Linked DNA regions of Homo sapiens. The protein of the gene in region 1 interacts with the protein of each later gene in a pairwise test. Each region holds a gene or a part of one and is shown on either strand. Other genes may lie near its edges.

Region 1 (2,842 bases):
CTGCACACCCTGAGTAAGGGAAGAACCCAGAGATACGGGAGAAAGAGACAGGTGTCTTGGTACCCAGTCTGTGATGTGACTAAAGTGCAGGGGAGGTGGAGAGCAGGGGACCATCCTCACTAGACCAAGATGAGGAGTACCTGAATTGTATTGCTTGGCGCTTTGCTTCCTCTACTTCTCATGAAGATTGGCTTGTTGTCCTGTGTCCCTGTTGAGCTGGTTGCTCTGAGACGCAAAGCCTCTTCTCCCTCCTGGATCTGGCTGATTTCCTTTCTTTGAGGTGAGCTCTGCTCTTTTTCAGGGGTTCTCCAGGACAAGGACCTCTTCTCTGTCTTCGCTGATCCCAATATGCTTGATACGTAAGTGTACCTGTCCTATTAGAGGGTACCTTCTCTCTCCTCGTGCTCAGGCCAGAAGCCTAATTGTCACCCTGCAGTCTGCTCTGGGAGCCCATCCATAGTCTGTCACCAAGTCTACCCCTTAGATACGTCAGGGGGTGAGAAAGAGCAAAGCCCAAGAGCAGGGCTTTTGTCAAGAGTGCTGGGAGGAAGCAGGATTCTGAGGGAAAGGGTCTTGTCTGCCAGGCTCAGTTTAGGTTTCGTGTGGTAGAAATTAGGGAGCTTTTCAAGGATTTTAAGCTGGCAAAAGGAGAAGCAGGTGTACAGATCCGTAAAGTGTCAAAGCTAAAAGGGACATGTCCTCATTTTGCAAGTGAAGAAAACAGCCCCACCCTGGGAAGAGAAGGGACCAGTCCAGGGTTGCCTGATGTAGTAGTGGTGCCTAGACCAGACACTCCTCATGTGCTCAGGCCAGAACCCTGAGCCTCCCAGGCTGCACCTTTCCCATCATGCCTTGCCTGTGGAGAGGGTGAAGAATCTGCAGCGGACCCCAGGAATTTGAAGGCCTTGCACCCGTTGCTGGGGGCAGATCAGCAGGAGGATAAAGCTTCCTGGTGGAAGATGCTAAAGACTGAGGAATTTGAGAGCAGGCACAGGTGGCTGCATTGTTGTGAGGGGGCACCCAGAACTCCTGTTATGGCTGAGGGTGCTCTTTTGGAGTCACCCTTGGGTTTCTTCCTGCTTCTATCCTAGGTTGGTGCCTGCTCACCCAGCCCTCGTCAATGCCATTGTCCTGGTTCTGCACTCCGTAGCAGGCAGTGCCCCAATGCCTGGGACTGACTCCTCTTCCCGGAGCATGCCCTCCAGCTCATACCGGGATATGCCAGGTGAGCGCCTGAAAAGTGTAATGTGGGCCCCTCAGGAGCCGGCAGTGGCCCAGGAATTTGCTTTACTCAGCAGCTATGTATAGCGTTGGCAGAGGGCGTTCCTTGGGAACTCTCGGTTTGAGTCAGGAAGTGCATCTGTCCTGTAATTTTCCGAGGGGAGAGATGAAAATATGAATTTGGAGAGTAACTTGAGCTGAGATTCTGGAGCTGCGCCTGTGCCTTTCTGTTCTTCCTCCTGAAATCTGTTCGTCCTCCTCCAGGTGGCTTCCTGTTTGAAGGGCTCTCAGATGATGAGGATGACTTTCACCCAGTAAGTGGCCTGCCTGCCTGCCTGACATGCTGACATGTGGGGGAGATGGTGCTGGGAATGAGCTGCATCCTGGGACCTGGCACTCCCAAGGCTGGGAGATGGACATACGCCATTGGGGGGCCAAGACCATGTCATACTATTTCTGCTTTTGGATTCCTTTCTGAACCTGGGAACTTAAGAGTTTCCCCAAGAACTATTGCTGGAGGTGGGTGGAGTTCATCTGGGAGTTTCACAGTACTGCTTCCCTGATTCTGAGTGTCTTCTTTCTCCAGAACACCAGGTCCACACCCTCTAGCAGTACTCCCAGCTCCCGCCCAGCCTCCCTGGGGTACAGTGGAGCTGCTGGGCCCCGGCCCATCACCCAGAGTGAGCTGGCCACCGCCTTGGCCCTGGCCAGCACTCCGGAGAGCAGCTCTCACACACCGACTCCTGGCACCCAGGTATGAAGACGGGGCCGGGAAGATCAAGGCTGGGCCCCCAAGGAACAAGCTCCCCAGCAGTAGAGTAGATTTGCCTTTGCTGACCCTGGTGCTAGATCTAGTTTAAGCTGAACCCTGGAGTCCTGGTGGGGATTTCTTACTGCAGCTTGAGTGACCTCCCCTTCACTTGCCTTGAGGACTCAGAAGTCTAGATTTTAACATGGTCCCGTGTAGTCCCCCCTATTAGTTCAGAAGACTCTTCCTGCACACAATATGCCCTTCCTCATCCCTGACAGGGAGCAGACATCACCAGCTTAAGCATTTCTGGGTGACAAGTCACTTCAGCTTTCAAGGCCATCTCTCCCAGTGCTGCAGTGCTGGGGTCCTAGGCTGGGACAAGGGGCTCAGTGCAGAAGAGAATGGAACCTTTCCTGCCCACATAGAGAGCTTCTAGTTACCTTTGTTTGGTTGTCTTATGGCAGGTCTTTGTTGGGAGGCAGAAGTTGGGTACCTCAGGAGTGCTGTGAGGTGATATGACAACAGCGAGCATCTGCTATAAGATTGAGATGGCGCTGAGGGTGGCACTGACCACTAATTTGTCTCTAGGGTCATTCCTCAGGGACCTCACCAATGTCCTCTGGTGTCCAGTCAGGGACGCCCATCACCAATGATCTCTTCAGCCAAGCCCTACAGCATGCCCTTCAGGCCTCTGGGCAGCCCAGCCTTCAGGTCAGTCTTCCCCACGTCTTGGTTTCCATGTGGCTTCCTTGTTATTTTGGATGCCCAGCCTTTGTTTTGCTCTCTGGCGGTCCTTCACACCTGGCATGCTTCATTCTAGGAACAGCTGGAGCATGGCAGTGGGACAGGTGCAGAGTGTTCCTAGCAAGG
Region 2 (2,758 bases), on another chromosome or scaffold:
CTGAGGAGCCTCAGTCATGGACCCAGCACCCACCCCAGGGGACAGGGATGGTGGCCACTGCAGCTTCCCTTAGAATGCCCAGGGGCTTCAGTGGTTGCCCCTGACCAGATGAGGGTCAGAATGTCATTCCTTAGCATAGCAGGCAGCTGAAATAGGACTTCAAGAAGGACTTCCCGGCTCTGAGACTAACAGATTTTGGGAGGGTGACAGAGGAAGAAGGGGGGATACCCGCCCTGGCTTCACTTGGGAAGAGAAAGATCCTAAACCTTTCAATAGGGCCTGGAGACAGAGGAATGGACAAACAGGGTTTCACAAAGGCTTCTCTGAAAGTCCTGGGCTTGTGGAGAGCTGGGGATATTAGAGCAGGAAGACGGCAGTGGCCTCCCCTTCCTAGAAGTGCAGCCTGACAGGTGCAGCACCTGCTCCCCAGCAGGGGGAGACAGAGAGTCAGCTGGGGCCCATCTGGTGCTTGGGAATGCCTGGGCTGCAGGACAAATCCCATCCTGGCAGAGTCGAGGCGCCAAGGGAGTGCCCAGGATGCTTACCAGTTCACACCATGGAGGCGCTGACCTCCTGAAACCTCCTGCTCCCTTAAGGGATTTGGGCCCCTAGACCTCAGGAGTGAGAGCTTCACCCTTCCTGCAAGGAGGGACCCCATGGCAGCCAGGCACACCCAGGACCCTCCTCCCAGCCAGCATCCCTCACCAGCTGTCCCCTGCCCCATCTCAGAAACCCCAATCAGCCACCCCACTGCACTGCTAAGCCCAGACTCTTGCTTTGATCCAGAGGCCCCCAAGATCCGTGTCCCCCGCCACCTCCGTCAGACCTACATCCGCCAGGTGGGAGAGACGGTCAACCTGCAAATCCCCTTCCAGGTGGGTATTACCCCCACCAAGGGTAACAGCCTGGGTGGGAACCAGGGCCCCCATTTAAGGGGAGCCTGGGAGATGGCAGGGTCTCCAAGGGTCCAGCTGAGACCCAGCGAGACGGCTTCATCCTTCCGCAATCATGCACATGACTCATTGGTGATTCTCAGCCTGTGGATGGGCAGGTGGGCCCCCAGAGCGGGATGGACACCTGGAAGATGTGGCTGTGGGCAGCACCTGTGGCTCCAGCCTCTGCTGCCCCTCCTGAGAAGGGCCAGTGGGACAGGCTTCCCCGAGAACAGCTCCAGAGACTCCTGGAGTTAAGGAGGTGTGGGGACTCTGGCACCTCCCTACACTCACCCTGGGGGCTCCTCCCTGCCAGGGGAAGCCTAAGCCTCAGGCCACATGGACCCACAACGGCCATGCCCTGGACAGCCAGCGGGTGAGCATGCGCACCGGGGACCAGGACTCCATCCTCTTCATTCGCTCGGCCCAGCGCTCCGACTCTGGCCGCTACGAGCTCACTGTGCGCGTGGAAGACCTGGAGGCCAAGGCAGTCATTGACATCCTGGTGATTGGTATGGAGCCAGGGGAACAGTGCTGTCTCATGGGGGACCTGGAGCCCCCAACCTCCTATCCCAGAGCTGATGGCTGATGGGAGCAGGCCAAGGGAGTGTGGCAAGAGCCAAATTTTGGGTGTGGGGGCTCTGTGGCCAGCCTGGCCCTCACACTCACTTCCTCTCACACTCTGGGCCTACAGAGAAACCTGGACCCCCCAGCAGCATCAGGCTCCTGGACGTCTGGGGCTGCAATGCTGCTCTTCAGTGGACGCCACCCCAGGACACAGGCAACACAGAGCTCCTGGGCTACATGGTGCAGAAGGCAGACAAAAAGACAGGGGTGAGGCTGGCTGAGGCAAAGTGGGGTCGGGGTACGAAGTGGTCAAGGTGGTGGGGAAGGCCCATCCCACTGAGTCTAGGGACCGAGTCTAGGGATCGAGTTCTGGTCTGCCCACTGCTAACCTGACTCCCTAGGAGGCCCTTAGCAAGACTCTTCCTCTCTGGACCTCAGATGCCTCCTGAAGACTGTGAAGAGGGCTGGCCCGGGCTGTCTGAAGCCTTTCAAGTTCTGGAGCCATGCTTCTCAAATCTTAATGTCCACATGAGTCACCTGGGGAGCTTGCTAAGAGGCAGAGTCTGACTCAGTAGGTCCAGGGTGGGGGCTGAGGGCCTGCATTTCTAAGACGTTTCCAGGTGATGCTGAAGTTGCACATCCATGGGCCACACTTTGCACACAAAGGCTCTAGGATTCTCTGAGGACCCTACAGAGGTCACCTGAGTGACCCAGGGGCCCCTTCTTCCAATTCAATGTCCCTGAGGCCCAAAGCTGGATGGTTCAGCATCCTAAGGTTGGGGGCATGGAATGAGTTCCTGTGAGGAAAGGTCTCCAGGGTAAGCAGGGAGGGTGAGGACAGGGGTGAGAAATGAGGGTGACACCCGGGGCCCTGCAGCAATGGTTCACAGTGCTGGAGCGCTACCACCCAACCACCTGCACCATCTCTGACCTCATCATCGGCAACTCGTACTCCTTCCGGGTCTTCTCAGAAAACCTGTGTGGACTCAGCACCTCGGCCACCGTCACCAAGGAGCTCGCCCACATCCAGAAGGCAGGTGGGTTTGGGCCCGGAGCTGGCTGTGCTAACTCTCTCCCTGTCTCTGCTTCTTCCTCCGCGTCTCTGCACCCCTCTCTCTGGGTTTCTCCTGGGCGTCTGCCCCTGGAACACTTGCCGTCTCCTCACTCCACGGCTATGCATACACACACATGGAGTGGCTGCAAAGTAGTGAATGTGGTTGGCTGATTTTAACAAACACATCAGAGCAAATCCACACAAA

Evidence for each region.
Region 2: the proteins of UBL7 (region 1) and MYBPH interact in a two-hybrid assay, tested with the Homo sapiens proteins (one large-scale study listed by BioGRID and IntAct).

What each region holds. Positions count from the first base shown.
Region 1 is NC_000015.10:74,448,319-74,451,160, reverse strand, and holds part of UBL7 (ubiquitin-like protein 7), read left to right. Parts: intron 1-301; coding exon 302-359; intron 360-1,091; coding exon 1,092-1,225; intron 1,226-1,485; coding exon 1,486-1,535; intron 1,536-1,807; coding exon 1,808-1,975; intron 1,976-2,560; coding exon 2,561-2,683; intron 2,684-2,842.
Region 2 is NC_000001.11:203,170,069-203,172,826, reverse strand, and holds part of MYBPH (myosin-binding protein H), read left to right. Parts: intron 1-786; coding exon 787-875; intron 876-1,248; coding exon 1,249-1,444; intron 1,445-1,626; coding exon 1,627-1,766; intron 1,767-2,376; coding exon 2,377-2,536; intron 2,537-2,758. UniProt on the Homo sapiens protein: Binds to myosin; probably involved in interaction with thick myofilaments in the A-band.